2 separate regions of the Homo sapiens genome follow, and region 1 is linked to region 2. The links come from fine-mapping of genetic effects on gene expression. Tissue or cell type: whole blood. Region 2 holds a variant in brackets; the other region holds the start of a gene. All regions are shown on one strand. Distances are from middle to middle.

What was found. PIP is the estimated chance that this variant, and not a neighbour inherited with it, causes the effect.
Region 1: OAS3 starts here. The variant in region 2 is fine-mapped to the expression of OAS3 in whole blood (TOPMed, PIP above 0.99).

What each region holds. Positions count from the first base shown.
Region 1 is chr12:112,935,052-112,943,154 of GRCh38, reverse strand. OAS3 (2'-5'-oligoadenylate synthetase 3) reads right to left here and starts at 4,681. Exons shown (of 16, transcript NM_006187.4): 1 at 4,448-4,681; 2 at 1,303-1,585. The coding sequence starts at 4,624. RefSeq lists enhancers at 2,795-2,964, 3,963-4,132, 4,556-4,725, 4,689-4,998, 4,893-5,062 and 1 more and a silencer at 4,379-4,468.
Region 2 is chr12:113,065,479-113,073,581 of GRCh38, reverse strand. All of the region lies in intron 2 of DTX1 (deltex E3 ubiquitin ligase 1), which reads right to left. Among named protein-coding and RNA genes, the nearest start is that of DTX1, 13 kb to the right of the region's middle. RefSeq lists enhancers at 6,014-6,514, 7,756-8,103 and a silencer at 8,071-8,103. The variant C/T (reference allele first, on the strand shown) is at 3,323.

The sequences.
Region 1 (8,103 bases), 130 kb after region 2:
AAGACCAGCCTAGACAACATGGTGAAACCCTATCTCTATAAAAAATACAAAAATTAGCCAGGCATGGTGGTGCATGCCTGTAGCCCAGCTACTCGGGAGGCTGAGGTGGGAGGATTGCTTGAACCCAGGACGGAGGTTGCAGTGAGCCAAGATCATGCCACCACACTCCAACCTGGGTGACAGAGTGAGACCCTGTCTTAAAAATGTGTGTGCGTGTGTGTGTGTGTACCCAGTATGTGGGTACACTAGGCTTAGGGTACCAGGCATAGGGGATGTGGCTATCTGCCCAAAGGATAAAGCTATCCCCCAGATCATCAAGGTAAATAATAATAATAATAATAATAACAATAATAATAGAAACAACAACAATAATAGAAATAATAATAATAGTAAACACTCTTACAACCCTTATCACATGCTAGACATTCTTATTTCTTTTTTTTTTTTAAGAAGAGTCTTACTCAGACAGATTGTAGTGGCAAAATCACAATTCACTGCAGCCTCCACTGCCTGGGCTCAAACAATCCTCCCACCTCAGCCTCTCCAGTAGCTGGGATCAGAGGGAGGCATGTACTACTACACCTGGCTATTTTTTAAAATTATTATTATTTGTAGAGACTAGATCTTGCTATTTTGCCAAGGCTGATCTTGAACTCCTGGGCTCAAGCAGTCTCTAACTTGGCCTCCCGAAGCTGGGATTACAGGCATGAGCCACTGCGCCTGGCCCACTAGACACACTTCTAAGCTTGATTACATATATTAATGCATTTAATTCTTCTGACAACTCTATAAGATTACTATTATCCCCATTAGTATTATCCTCATTTTACAGATGAGGACACAGAGGCCTATTTTTATCTTAACTCAAGCATACGTGTATTACGAAGGAGAACACAAAAATCACATTGATGTTTTCAACATAAAATACAAGATTTTGCAGAATTCTGGTTTCGTCCCCAGGCCCCTACTGCTAGCCACATGTCCACTTGGCTTAGCTTTCGGGAGTATTTGTGGAAGGGCTGAGCAGTAACCGCTCCAGGCAGTGGCTGAGGGAAACTCCCAGATGCCTGTGGGAGGGCCAAGCATCTTGACAGCAGGACCACAGATCCAGGAGGAACTGGGGTTTCTCTGCCTTTGTCTGGCACAAGTCCAATATGTTTAGTCCCCAGACTGAGGCTGAGAGAGGGGTAGAGGCTGGCCCAGGTCAAACAGCAAGTTGGTGGCTGGGCTAGAATTGGAAGTCCTGTGTTGTTCCCAATGATCTTTTGCCCCCAACCCTGGAATGGTCTAGGAACCCCTCACCCAGGACATTGAAGGCAGGCACCAGGCTAACATCCATCCAGTCCTCAAGATCTACGGATGTCAGGCGGAACTGCAGGGCCCCAGGCACGCTCTGCTCAGGAAACGTGAGTCTCAGACCAGGGACTGGGTTCTGCCACCAGGATTCCAGCGATGCCCGCATCTCACTGAGGATCTCTGCACGGCGGGCCCTCTGGTCCACATAGCTCTTGAAGCAGTCGAGGAAGATGACAAGTTCAGAATCACAGCCACCCTTGAGAGCTGTGCCCCGGCCCGAGGAGCCTCCCTGGGCAAAGAAAAATAACTCAGAATTTCATACTGTCCAATTCTAGTGGCCTTGCAACCTGGCAGGCAACTTGAGTGAGGCAAGTGTGCTGGGGAGAGACTGTGGCCACATGGCTGTAGGCATTGAAGCCACGCGGGAATGTGGGCCCAGGGTAGCCAGGCTCGAGATTTCAAGAGAAGCAATTTTAACATGTAAACTCATGATTTTTTTTCCATAGAAACAGGGTCTTGTTCTGTCACCCAGGCTGGAACACATAGCTCACTGCGGCCTTGAACTCCTGGGCTCGAGTGATCCTCCTGCCTCAGCCTCTCAAGTAGTTGAGACTACAGGCACACGCTACCATGCCTGGCTAGTTTTTACATTTTTTTAAAGAGATGGGGTCTTGCTATGTTGCCCAGGCTGGAGTGCAGTGGCTATTCACAGACACGATTGTAGCTCACTGCAGCTTGGAATTCCTGGGCTCGAGTGATCTTCTTGCCTCAGCCTCCCAAGTGTCTGAGACTATAGGCATGCACCACCGTGCTGGGCTAAATCCATACTTGTAATTTTATTTTTATTTTTAGTTTTGAGACAGAGACTTACTCTGTTGCCTAGGCTGGAGTGCAGTGGCACCATCTCAGCTCACTGCAACCTCCATCTCATGAGTTCAAGTGATTTTCCCACCTGAGCCTCCTGAGTAGCTGGGACTACAGGTGTGCGCCACCATGCCTGGCTAATTTTTGTATTTTTAGTAGAGATGGGGTTTCACCATGTTGGCCAGACTGGTCTCGAATTCCTGACCTCAAGTGATCTGCCCTCGTTGGCCTCCCAAAGTGCTGGGATTACAGGCATGAACCACCATGCCAGGCCTATATCCATGATTTTTAAATGTTGGCAACTAACTTTTTAAAAACTCAAGACCGCAGGTAAAACAAATTCTGCTTTGCAGAACACACATTTGCAATCTTTGCTCAGAATGGGTACAGAACTGTGGTATGACTCAATTTCTGAGACCTGTGTGATTAGTGTTTCTTTCGGCAAAGCTTCCAACCTGAGGATTTGGAAAAGAAACTCCTAAACATTGTCAGAGCCACTGTTCTGTGTCTGGGATCTGACGTCTCTAATCTCACTTCCAACACAAAACAACTGTGATGTAGTTACATGTGGCTGCAGATATGGGGAGTGAGGCTCAGATGGTGAAATGAGTTACACAGCCAGTAAACAGCAAGAACCAGGATGGAGCCCTCCAGGAGCAAGGCTTGCCTCAAACTGGGACCCCCTACTTATCCCGATGATTATGCCAGTCCTTTTACTACCAGCTCCCACCATCTGGGGGCTGCTGACAAAGTGGGAACAGGGAATATTACAGGCTGGGCACTTCCTGCACGTTTTGCACACTCTCATCTCATTGAACCTTCCTCACAGCCCCAGAAGGAAGGTACCACTTTACAAAAGAGGAAACGAAAGCACAGGGAGATTGCACCGTGCTCACTTTACAAAGGAGACAATGAAAGCACAGGGAGATTGTGCTCCAGAACCCCCTCCCACCCCTTTCCAGGGAAGCTAAGGATGCCAGGGCTTTCCCTTGCTGCACAGAAATCCCTCCTGTCCATCTCCAAGGTAGAAACGGGACTTCACACCTCCTAGGCGACAAGTGTCTCCTCCTTCCCCACCTCCCAAGCTGAGAGTCAGCCCCAGGAAACCACTAGGTGCTCTGAGGCCATTTCTACTCTGCGTTTTCACTCCCTCTCCTGACAACCTCCTCTAGCACACCCAGGTTCCCTCCATCAATCCACTCCTGGCACCCCCAAATCTACCCTGAGGATAAGGTAGCTCATGACTTGTCTCCTCCCTGAATCTGCGAGTGTCCTGGGATCACAGTGGCAGTGTGGCTGTATTTAAGTGACAAAAAGTGACCCGGAGCCTGGGCAACATGGTGAAATCCCGTCTCTACAAAAAATGCAAAAATTACCTGGGCATGGTGGCTCACACCTGTAATCCCAGCACTTTGAAAGGCCAAGGCAAGTGGATCACTTGAGCCCAGGAGTTCCAGGCCAGCCTGGGCAACACGGCAAAACTCTATCTCTACAAAAAATGCAAATAATTAGCCAGGCATGGTAGTGTGCACCTGTAGTGCCAGCTACTTGGGAGGCTGAGGTGTGAGAATAACTTGAGCCCAGGAGGCGGAGGTTGCTGTGAGCCAAGATCATGCTACTGCACTCCAGCCTGGGTGACAGAGCGAGACCCTGTCTCAAAAAAAAAAAAAAAAAAAAAAAAAAAAAAAGATGTGACTCAGAGTAGTAATTTAGCGTCTAGCCTCAGTTTCCCTATCCATAAAACAGGTACAATAATACCTGCCTCACTGAACGTGGGGATGAAATGAGGTAATACTCATTTAATGAGATAATTTTCATTGTTATTTGATAATGTCTCAATAAATTGGGCTACTCTGGCTGTTACGCGGAGTGTTATTACTTCTGTAACCTTAAGGTCTGGCATAGTGTGAGGCCCACAGTCTGTTTGAATGACTGGGAGAATGAGTGAATGAGTGAATGAATGGATAAGAAGCAGCCTCTGAGAGTAGAGATGCAGGAATCAGGCTACTTGGATTTGAATCCTGGCTGGGCCTCTTACAGGATCGGACACGTCACTGTACCTCTCTGTGCCTCATTTTCTCTATCTGTCAAGCGGGCTTAAGAGTACCTACCTGGCTCGTATGTTCGGGGGAGTTAGCACGGGGCTGGCACATTGGAAGTATTTGTTAAAGAAATGAATGAGGTGCACAAGCGGATAAAGCCACCCCCACCGTAAGCCTATGTGAGGCTTAAGCGTCCTCCCAGGACTCCCCTTTGGACACATAAAGACCCCGAGGTGGGACCTCACCTTGACAGTTTTCAGCACCCGCGGGGCAGCAGCACCGAGGCGGCCCCCGCGCTCCCTCAGGGCAGCGGCCAGGGCGCCCAGAGCGCGCCGCGCCTTCTCTACGAACTCCTTCCGCGGCTGCAGCCTTCTGGCCACGAACCTGTCCAGCGCAGCGGCCGGGGTGCTGTACAAGTCCATGGCCGCCCGGCGCAGGTGCAAGGGGAAGCAGGGCTCTGGCGCGGCCTTCGGATTTCTGGTTTCGTTTTCCCGCCCGGCTCTCCGAACCACGCCCAGCTGGCCAGGTCCTAGGTCCTCGGTCCCGCGCGTGGCGTGAAACGGGGAGGGGCGCTGCAGTTCCTGTCTTCCCCAAACTTGGGAAATTCCCTGCTTTCAGTTTCGTTTCTTTCTAGCAGCTCTTGGACCTGACACCCACTTCCTGGTCCCCTTCCCAGCTACGACTTCCTCTCCTTCATCTCCTTGCTTCCAGCCGTCCCTGCAACCACCAGCTCCAACGAACTAATCACAACCTAACAAAGTATACCCACAGAACATATGGGTACATACTGAGTAACGTACTCTGAGCATTTCAGAAACGTGCAGGTTTTACATGGAAAAAAAAGGTCAGGATTTAATAAACGGAGAAGTCCTACCTCGCTGTCTGACTGAGGGATGCGTTCTAAACACCACTACCACCACCAACGATAATAAAGCACACTTGGAGACTCTCACTGACTCCTCCCAACGACCATGGTGTAGGTGCTATTATCATCACCCATTTGACAGATGAGGAAGTCAAGGTACAGAGGAACTAGGTAACTGTCCAAGGTAACACAGCTGGAAAGTTGTCTGGCTGGATTCAAACCCAGCCCAAGCCCACAGAGCTGCCCTCTTCAGAAGCCAACTCTTCCTAAATAATTTATACGTGTAATGCAGTTCCAATAAAAATTCCATCTTTAAAAACTTCAAACACACGATCTAAAGTCTGTCTGCAAGAATTAAAAATTATTTTGGAGGAGAAGGAGGAAGGAAAGTCAGTCAGTTTAGGATGGTACCTTGCACAACAATACTACATATTAAAACATTGTAAAGCTACAATAGGGAAATCCTCTTGGAATGGGCACAAAGCTAAGCGGACTGTAAGCTATAAGCTGCAGAGTGGAGATTTGAATCCAGGACCATTGCGCTTCTATCTTCATGGCCTGTCTCCTTTTTCTGCTTATTTCCTGCTGCTTCTCCACCCGGGTTCCTAGAGACTGCACACCTGAGCTCTCTTCCAGGCCTGGTCCAAGCCATAGCCTATCTCCTCCTCCCCATCTTACTAAAAAACTCCCAGGTCCTCTCTCCTGTCTGCTCCGGGACCCAGCATTTACTCTGCCTCTGAGTACACTTCAGGTAATAGTCTTAACAAGTGCTTCCTGACATCTGCACGGTAACTGAAAGGAAATAGATAGGATCAGAGTGTGAATTTCAGAGGTCATGGTCAACTAGAGGGAGAGATGCTGGGTCTGTAATATGTACACCAGCTAATATTTTGAGTAGTGAATGCTGCATCACTTGGAATATTCAAGTATGGGCAGGTTTTGTAGGTCAGGTGTTGTGGTGGGGATTTAAGTCAAGGGATTGAGCAATGATTTTCATTCTCGCCCATTAATCACAGTCTTCTTCCTGAGTCACAGGCCACTTTAGAAACTTTCCATTCAAGATAGTGGATTGAACACATGCTCAAAATTCTATTAAAATAGCAGCAAAGATATATTAAAAGCATAATGGAAATCAACAGGGTTGGAAACTGAGAAAAAGTGGAGTCAAGGGGGCGGGACATTTGAGGCATTTTTAGAAGATGGAACGCAGAAGGGTCAATATTGGGTCATGATGGTGGACTGAACATATGCATAAGCCTTCAACGTCCATCCCAGGCCTCTAGAGGTGGCAGGAAAGCGATAGAAAAACTTTAATAATGTTGCTGGGTCCTAACCAGAGGTGTCCCAGGTAAACTGGAATCTGAGATCCCTGTCAGAGATATGAGACTGGATGAAGGAGGAAATTGCAGCCAAAACACATAAAGGAGGGGGTACCTATGCAGAGTGGAAAGGCTCTGAGGAGCTGCAGGCTCCAGGCAGTGGATTGAAGGAAAAGAAGGGACCCTAGGTTAACTCTCATGGTTGTCAGTTGTGCTGGCATAGTAATGGCAGCCTCTAAAGACATGTGGTCTCCCGCCCCAACCTTTCTGTGTTGAGTAACAGGCAGCAGAGGTGCCTGCCTAAGGAGGGAGCAGTGAGGGTGGGGCAGAGAGGCAGGGAAGTACACAGCATACCTGGCCACATCTGGAAAGAACAGGAAGTCCTGTATGCAGAAGACTCATTCCTGGCACATCCCCTTTCCTCATCTCTGCCTCCAGCTGCAGTAAGAAGGTACCAACTTCACAGGGAGACAAGCAGAACATCCCCAGTGAGCAAAAAGCACACATCCAAAGGTGCCAAATTATTTTGGGAGATCCAATGCTATGAACATAAAAACTCACATGTAAGGACACTGAAATAATCAATAAAGGAGAAAGAGTCTTCTGTGGTCTAAATTTGTCCCCCAGAATTCATGTGTTGGAAACTTACTCCCCAATGCAGCAGTTGGGAAGTGGGGTCTAACAGGAGGTGTTTGTGTCATGAGGGCTCTGCCCACGTGAGTGGATTATGGCCACTGTGAAAAGAGCTTGGAGGAATGGGCTCATTGTCTTCTGCTTTTCTGCCATGTGAGGACATAGTGTTCCTCCCCTCCAAAAGACACAACATTCTTCAAGGCGCCATCTTGGAAGCATAGAGACCAGGTCCTAACCTGCTGAAGCCTTGGTCTTGCACTTCTCAGCCTCCAGAACTGTGATAAGTAAATTTCTGTTCTTTACTAATTTCCCAGTCTGTGGCTTTCTGTTTTAGAAGTACAAATTGGACTAATACGGTCTTAGAAATATATAATTAATATCCTCAGAGGGATTAGATATTATATCCATTATAATTATTCATTGTATTCATGATTATTCATCATATCCATGAAATAAGAACAGTGATGAAAGTCAACAATCACCACTATCACATTGGAAGTGAAAACATAATGCAAAATAAAACCAAAGATGAACAGAAAAACCGAACCTTCTCCATAGATAGGCTGAATAAATATACCTGAAGATAAAATCAGTAAACTGGAAGATGGAATGGAGGAAATTACTCGAGATTACAGGAAAGCAGAACATAGAAAAGAAAGGTATAAAAGACAACTTATGAGATGTGGAAAACAGATCCTTTCCTTATTCTTATAAATATTTATTAAGGCCAGGTGCGGTGGCTCACGCCTGTAATCCCAGCACTTTGGGAGGCCAAAGCAGGTGGATGACCTGAGGTCAGGAGTTCGAGACTGGCCTGGCCAACATGGTGAAACCCCGTCTCTACTAAACATACAAAAATTAGCTGAGTATGGTGGCAGGCACCTGTAATCCCAGGTACTCAGGAGTCTGAGTCAGGAGAATCACTTGAACCCAGGAGGCAATGGTTGCAGTGAGCCAAGATCACACCATTGCACTCTAGGCTGGATGACAAGAGTGAAACTCTGGCTCAAAAATAAAATAAATAAATAAATAAATAAATATTTATTCAGTGTTTTCTTTATGGTAGCCACTGGTCTAGCACAGA
Region 2 (8,103 bases):
GGCACGGAGCTATGGCTATTGATATGAAAGGGGCGGGGTTGAAGAGGTGGAGAGGTTGGACTGGCAGCCCAGCCCCAGGAAATAAGGTCCCTGGGCACCTACCATGTTCCAGCCAATCAGACAAAAACTTCCCCTGCATCTCTGGGGCAGCCTCACTCTGATGCCTGATTTATCATTTTAATTGAGTGTGTGCAGATTGATTTCTTCCCTGGTGATGGGGCTTCCTCCACAGTAGGCCCGGGAGGAGGTGAGTTAGAGAGAAAACCCTGGATCCTGCTCCCACCTGCTCTTGTGTGCTGGTCTTCCCCTCTCAGGGCCTCAGTTTCCCCACCTGCAAAATGAGGGGTTGTGATGACTGATCTTCAAGGCTGATGTGCCTGAAGTACCACCATTCAGCTCCTGGTGAGGTGAAGGCAGTGTATTACCTGAAAAATGTGCAGGATAGGAAGGGAAGCAATGGGAACCCGCCTTATTTAACTTCCCCTGTGTGCCAAATCCTGAGCTCGGCAGGGGAGGGGCCGGGATAGGAGGTGCAGAGTGAAGTGATTCAAGCAACTCAGAAGTCTCTCGGGTCGAGCCAGGTGCAGTGGCTCATGCCTGTAATCCCAACACTTTGGGAAGCTGAGGCGGGTGGATCATCTGAGGTCAGGAATTCGGGACCAGCCTGGCCCACATGGTGAAACCCCCGATCTCTACTAAAAAATACAAACATTAGCCAGGCGTGGTGGTACGTGCCTGTAATCCCAGTTACTCAGGAGGCTAAGGCATGAGAATCGCTTGAACCCAGGAGGCAGAGGTTGCAGTGAGCTGAGATCACACCATTGCACTCCAGCCTGGGCGACAAAGCAAGACTCTGTCTCAAAAAAAAAAAAAAAAAAAAAAAAAGAAAATCTCTCAGGTCTTGTGCAAATCCTGGCTGGTACCACACATAGCCTCAGTGCCCTTATCTATAAAATGGGGGTATTAATATCTACCCCAAAGAATTACTGGGGAAACAAAATGAGATAACGTATAGGCAAAGGTGCTTAGCAGAACACTTAGCATTTAGTAAGCACTCAATGAATACAGCTACAATGGCTGATATTACATATGTTACCCACATTCATCCTCCCCCAGCCCTTGTTCACTTGGCAAACTCCTATTCATCCAGCAAAGCCCTCCATGTGCTCATCTCCTCCAACATGGGCTTCTCTGTTCTGTTGCTATAGTTGGCAAACGCAGCAGTCTTTTATTGCATGTCTGTCCTCACACTGTCATTATTTGTTTTTGTTCTTAGTCATCCTCATTGGTAGATCACTTTTGGGAGGACAAAGACTACTAGGTCAGATATGCAACTATGTTTGGAGCACCAGGCACAAAGCCTGGTGCAAAGAAGACATCTGCAAGCGAGACGGGCAACCTACTTGGCACTTGGAGGAGTGGGAAAGAGGAAAATCTGGGCTTGATGGAGAGGGAGTGGAGATTGGAGAGCAAGCAGCCCCCAGGGTGGAGGCCAAGCTTCGAGGGGTCCCTGGGGAGGACCCTCAGGCCAGGAGGAGGATTCTCAACATCAGCGTTGGCCAGCTCTGCAGCAAAGGACTCTGGGAGCCCGTCAGGGCCAGCTAGCCCAGGCCTCCCTCTCTCCAGGGCTCTATTTACCAGGTATCGATTTTCCTGCCTGTTTACTGGTAGTTATTAAAGGCTGTGTCCCTGGAGTCCTTTTGAAACAAGATTGGAACCTGGAGAGCAGGAGTAATTAGGGCAGCTGCTGTCCTCCCCGCTGGGCCCTGCACCCCGCAGCGCCCGCCGCTGCCCGCCTGCCCATCCGTCCGCCTCTCCGGCCCAGGCTGGCCATGGACCAGGCCGAGGGGGTGGGCAGCTGGTTCCTTGGTGACCTGCCTGGACTTCGATCTCAAGATTTCTAAGGGAGCAGTGGTGGAAATGCTCCTTCTCCTCCGCAGTGGCCATGGCCTAGATTTTCAGCCAGAACAATGGGTCTAAGAAGGGGCTGGAGTTTCTTCAGCCTGGGAAAGAGGCTGGGCCTCAGGCTGGTGGCCCAGAGCAGACCACACCCCACTCTGGCCTTCAGGGCACCCTGCTGTGCTGGCCACAGGGTCTGCGTCCCCCAGGCAGTTAGGGGCCTGTGACAAACATGGGCTCCGTGCCTCTGCCTCGGCCTGTTTTTGTGTCTCTGCCTTTGTTGTCTTCCCCTTCTCTCTCCTCCCTAGTTGCTTAAAAATGTTTGGCAGAAAAATTCCAGGCTTCTTCCAGCTGAACTGGAGAAAGGGGCTTTGGTCAGTGTCAGCTGGAGGACTGCACAAGCTGGGCCCCTGAGACCGGGTGTGGGGGCGGCCACAGCCACAGCTGCCAGTGACTGCTTCATGCCTGGGGCAGAGACAGGGTGACAGCAGGATGGAGAGAGACAGAGAGAGACATACATGATCAAAGAGACTGTCAGAGACAGGCCAAGGCCAACATGGGAAACTGAGGCAGATACCAAGAGAGCTGGAGTCAGAGATAGAACGAGCTTGAGAGATGAAAAGAAAGGGAAGCTGGAAACCTGGAGGCTGAGACCATCATGGAGAATCAGGGAAACCAAGGCTAGCATTTATTGAGCACCTACTGTATGGCACATGCTGCACTCAGCACTCTCCTTGCACTCACTCATTCCATCCTCACACCATTGCTTCCAGGGAGGGACCAGGACTATTTCCATTTTACAGATGAGGAAACTGAGGCCCGGAGAGGTGAACTCTTGGGAGGGTGAGAGCAGAGGGCTGGGAATGATGCCACACTCGTGGAGTAAAGGCAGGCCCAGGTTGGACTGGTTCCATGGGGTTCAACCTCACCAAGTGGTAGCACAGCCTAGGATACTTCCAGCGATGGAGAGCTCACTACTTCAGCTTTACTTTCCGTTGTTTAGCCGTGTGAGGTTTCTGCCCTAGAGCATGGTCCCGATCTGAACCCACTGCCTAGAGGTGGGTATGTGGGTGCCTCAGCCCCCACCTCTTGGCCTTAAGAAGCAGCTGACTCCATGGAGAAGGGGGAGGGTTCTGAGCCCCCGAGCCTTCCTCCTGCTGGTCCCTCAGCCTCTAAACGGTTCCTCTCTGGGCTGGGCCAGCTTCAAGGCCCAGCAGGGAACCCCTCCCTTTGGGGGTGGCTTCCCGGAGGGAAGTGATCTCAGTTTGGGGGCACCCAGACCCTGACGGGAAGGGGGCACGTGGGAGGCGGTCATGGGACATCCTGTCAGGCTGGGGGAGTCCCACCACAGGCTGAGGCCTGTGACCGGGGGTTGGGCAGTGGCTGGGCCCCAGTCAGAGACTTCACTGAATCCTTCACCAAC[C/T]CAGAAGTCATAATACTAACAGCCATCCACACTCAGAGAGCACACTTTTCTGCCCCAGGCTGTGTTTAGCTCATTCAAGCGAAAGAGTGTGTTTAGCACCCCTAGGAGGTGGGGGTGTTATTGCCCCATTTTAGAGGCGAGAAAACAGAGGCACGGAGCAGTTAGGAGCACACCGGATGCCATCTGTGAGTGGTCCAGCTGGAGCCTACACAAGGCCACCTTGCTTCATTTGCTGTTCCCTCTGACTTAGTCTCATGAGCCCATGTTCTGGGGGAGGAAACTGAGGCACAGCGGTTGCATGGTAAGTAAGTGACATGGCTGAGGTTCCAACCCTGGATTGCTATGTGACCTTCTGGAATAGCCCCTTAGCTGGCATCTGCATGGCTGCTCACCTGTCTCCTACAACAAGGACAACAGCGGCACCCAACACCTTACCGAATGCTCCGCAGTGCCAGCAACTGTGCTAGGGGCTCACACACATCATCTCCCAGTCCTCACAGCAGCCCCAGGGGTGTGTGTGCTAATATTAGCCCCATCGGACAGATGGGGAGACTGAGGCTCCCTAAGAAGACGTGGAAGTCTGGCTGGGGGCACCGGCTGGGCTGGGATTCGAGCTGCAGCCTGTGGATCCAGGCTGCCTCACCAGCTCCTGCCCCATGATCAATAATCCCGCAGTGTTCTGTTTCCCTCCAAACTCTCCTCTGGGATTCATCAGGCTAAGCTGTGGCCCATTAGTGGTTTCCTTGTGGTTGAAGCTGGCCCAGGTTCTCCAGGGTCTGCTGGAAGCCAGGCCAGGGTGGTGGGGAGACAAGGGGAGGAGAGGGGGTCTGCAGTGCTGCCTAAGGAAGGCTGAAGGGCTGCGTGGCACTCGGAGAGGCTACCACCTTGGAGGCTGCTGGCAGGCGGAGGCGGGCACTCATACGCCATGGGCTGTATGGGGGGCTTTCTGGTCACCTGGCTTCCCACACACCCAGCAGGGGATTCAGATCCCTAGCAAAGCAGGAAGTGGAGGGGGAGGGGACAGAGGGCTGGACAGTCCTCCACAGCCTGAGCCCTCCAAACTGCTCCTTTCTCATCTGTGAAATGGCATAATTGTAATAATAATAAAATAATAATGATAATAAACACTCCCAGAGGGCCTACTATGTGCCAGGCGCTGTTCTAAATGCTTCGTGTAAGTCAACTCTTCAGCCACAAAATGACTGGGGCAGGTTGTTATGATAATAATGATAATAAACATATGATAATGATAACTATTACGATCACTGTCTTGTACAAACACTGAGTGAAGCACAGAGAGGTGAAGCAATTTGCCTGAAGTCCAGAGTCACATAGCCACTGGGCTACTAAGTGAAGATTGAATCTAGTCAGGATTTGAACTTCCCCGACTTCCACTGTCAGCCCTCTGGCCCATGCCACCAGAGTGCTAGCCTGGACTGTTGCAGGGGCCTCCTCCCCATGTCCCAGTGTCCACCCTTTGCAATGTTCAGTGCATTCTCACATGGCGCCGGGGGGATTTTTCACAGACTCAAGGCTGGACTGTGTCACTCCTCTGCTCCACAGCTATCAATAGCTCCCTAGTGCCCTTAGGAATCAGTCTAAACTCCTTAGAGTAGCCTCTGAAGCCCATCACAAGCTGTCTGCACAGCCTCACACTCTAACCACACCAAAATTCCAGCTATTTTTTGAACATACCGTGTGTGCGGTTATGCCTCTGTATTTGCATATGCTGTTCCATCTGTCTAGAGTGTCCTACCCACCCCACCCCACTGGCCTCCCTGCTGAGTTCTTTCTCAATCTTCTGGCTCAGCACAAGCACTCTGTCTTCTTGGAATCTTCTCTGCCATCCTTAGGGCAAACCACTCGCTCCTTGGGGACTCCATAGCACCTTGCGCCTGCAATGCTCCCATCAAAGCACATAGCTCACTAGGTGCGGAGGTGTCTGTGTTCCTTCGGGCCTGGCAGCCCCTCCAAGGCTGGGCTGGTTTACAGTCACCTTGGCATCCCTCTGTGGTCAGGAGTGCAGGGAGGTAGGTCCTTGCAAAATGTTGGATGAATGAATAAATGAATGAATAACCAAATACATCTGAATGAACCTAACTGAATGCTGCTCATGACTAGGCTGGAGACTGCAAGCTGGGCGGATATGGTTTTGTTCTGGTTCACATGCTATTTACATTTAAAAAATAGTGACCTGTATTTATTTATTTATTTATTTTTTGAGACAGGATCTCACTCTGTTGCCCAGGGTGGATTGCAGTGGTGCCATGATAACTCACTGCAGCCTGCACCTCCTGGTCTCAAGCAATCCTCCAGCCTCAGCCTCCTGAGTAGCTGGGATCACAGGTGTGTGCCATCATGTCTAGCTATTTTTTTTTTTGTTTTTATTTGGTGGAGATGGGGTTTCACTACATTGCTCAGGCTGGTCTTAAACTCCTGTGCTCAAGTGATCCTCCTGTCTCAGCCTCCCAAAGTGCTGGGATTCCAGGCATGAGCCACCTCAAATGGCCTCACATTTAAAAATTGGGGCAGATTCACACCAGTCCAGATTTCAGAAATCCCCAGATATCCAAGGGTGGGGCCACAACAATTGGCCTCCTTGGCAACAGTGAGCAGGAGCTGAGTTATGCTGGCCCCATTCATGCCTTCAAGTATTTATTGAGCACCTGCTGCATACCAGGCACTGGAGAGCAAGACAGTTAAAAAACCTCTGCCTTCCCAGACACTGCACACACTTCTATTAGTTGCCCAGGCCCTGTAAGCATCTGAATTTGCAGCCTTTGTGTAGATGGGTAAGCTGAGCTGCAGAGAGAAACTTGGGCAAGATCACCTGGCAAATTAGAGACAGGCCTTGGACCCAGGCTCCCTGACTGTCATTTCCACAGGGCCAGGTGAGTAACACCTTGGAACAAGTGAACCTTCGCCCCCTAGAACAGAGGAAGCTGGGGAGGGCAATGCTTACCCCAGCCAGGGGGAGGGCCCTGGGAAGGTGGTATTCCAGGTAAACTCTGTGCTTCCTCTTACCGTGCTCTGCTTGCAGTTGGAGGGGGAGGGGACAAAGGCCCAGTCGGTCATCGGGACAAGAGGTGGCTGTGCTGCAGCTGCTGGCAGGACTGTCCTGGCAGCCTCCTTTGATTGCCTCGTCCTTTGTTCTGCATCTCAGGGTGCTCAGCTCCAGGGCCCAGCGCCAGACTCCCTCATGCACCCCGTCACCGGCCTGCCACTGCTGTCTGTGCAGGCAGCAGTAGCAGCCTGGAGCAGCTCCAGAGGGATGATGGAAGGAGCCCAGAGAGGGAGAGGCGCTTGGCCAGGGTGGCCGAGCAAGGACACAACTATGCGGGACCTAGAGGAGACTCAGCTCCTAGCCCGGCAGCTCCTGGGCTCCAAGGTAGGGGACAGTCCTATATGCTGGGACTTCCTTGGCGCCTGGCCTCCTGCATCACACCCATCATCACTCCACCCCTCACCCCCAGAACAGAAGCACCTTGAGGGCTTCTGTGTCTGTCCTGTTGATTGTGACATTCCTAGTGCCCGGACAGTGCCTGGCACACAGTAGGTGCTCATGAAACTCCTGATGAATGAATGAATAGTGACCACAATCACACAAGTTCAGTACTATCATCAGGTCCATATTACAGGTGAGGAAACAGAGGCTCAGAGGCTCAGGGAGGGAGTGTGGTTTACTTAAGGTCACAAATCTCCCCACCCACTACGATTCTTTTTTTTTTTTTTGAGACGGAGTCTCACTCTGTTACTCAGGCTGGAGTGCAATGGCTCAATCTCAGCTCACTGCTACCTCCACCTCCCGGGTTCAAGTGATTCTCCTGCCTTGGCCTCCCGAGTAGCTGGGATTACAGGCGCCCACCACCATGCCCACTAATTTTTGTATTTTTAGTAGAGAGGGGGTTTTACCATGTTGGCCAGGCTGGTCTCGAACTCCTGACCTCAGGTGATCCACTCACCTTAGCCTCCCAAAGTGCTGGGATTATAGATGTGAGCCACCACACCCGGCCTACACACCCCATGATTCTTAGTAAGCAGCTGGGATGGGAACCCAGAGCCTGGCCCTCACCAACAGCATTCCCCGAGGTAGCTGTTTCCAGGTTCCAGGCCCCATGTCCTCAGTTGATGTCAGCCAGAGGCAGCTAGGGGCTGCTGGGGGTGTCTGTGTCAACCCAGAGGCTGGGTGGGCTCATGGGGGTGACTATCTAAGGGACTGGAGCTGTCCTGGGGACTGGCTACCACCGGTTGTGATTCCAGAGCCAGGTGGAAGGATGGAGGCCCAGGGAGAGACAGAGGTGGCGGGCGGAGGCCTGGGAGCACCCCAGGCACCCCCATGCACCAAGAACATCACACTGGAGAGAGAGTTAGGGACCTCAACCCCATTGCCTACTGCCTGAATGGGCACTTGGAGCCACTGTGACCAGTCCTGCCCCAACCCCTTGGCCTCCCCGTGGCCTCCCCGTCCTGGCCCCTCCTCGTCACCCTCTCATCACACCCTCCATCATCTCCCCTCCCAACCCCTCACGCTTCACTCCTTACCACCTTCTTCACCATCCCCTCCACAGCCCCGCTACCTGTCACTTCCGCATCACCTCCCCTACTCCAGCCCCCACGCTTCCCATCACAGCTTCCATCTCCTCCTTCCTCTCCAGGTCAGACTCCGCAGCTCCTTTGGAAGAATGAGGCGGGGGATGGGAGGAAGCTGGAGAGGAGGAGGGAGGGAAGAAGGAGGAGAAAGGGGTGAGGGGAGGAGAAGGAGAGGGAGAGGGCTGCGAGGG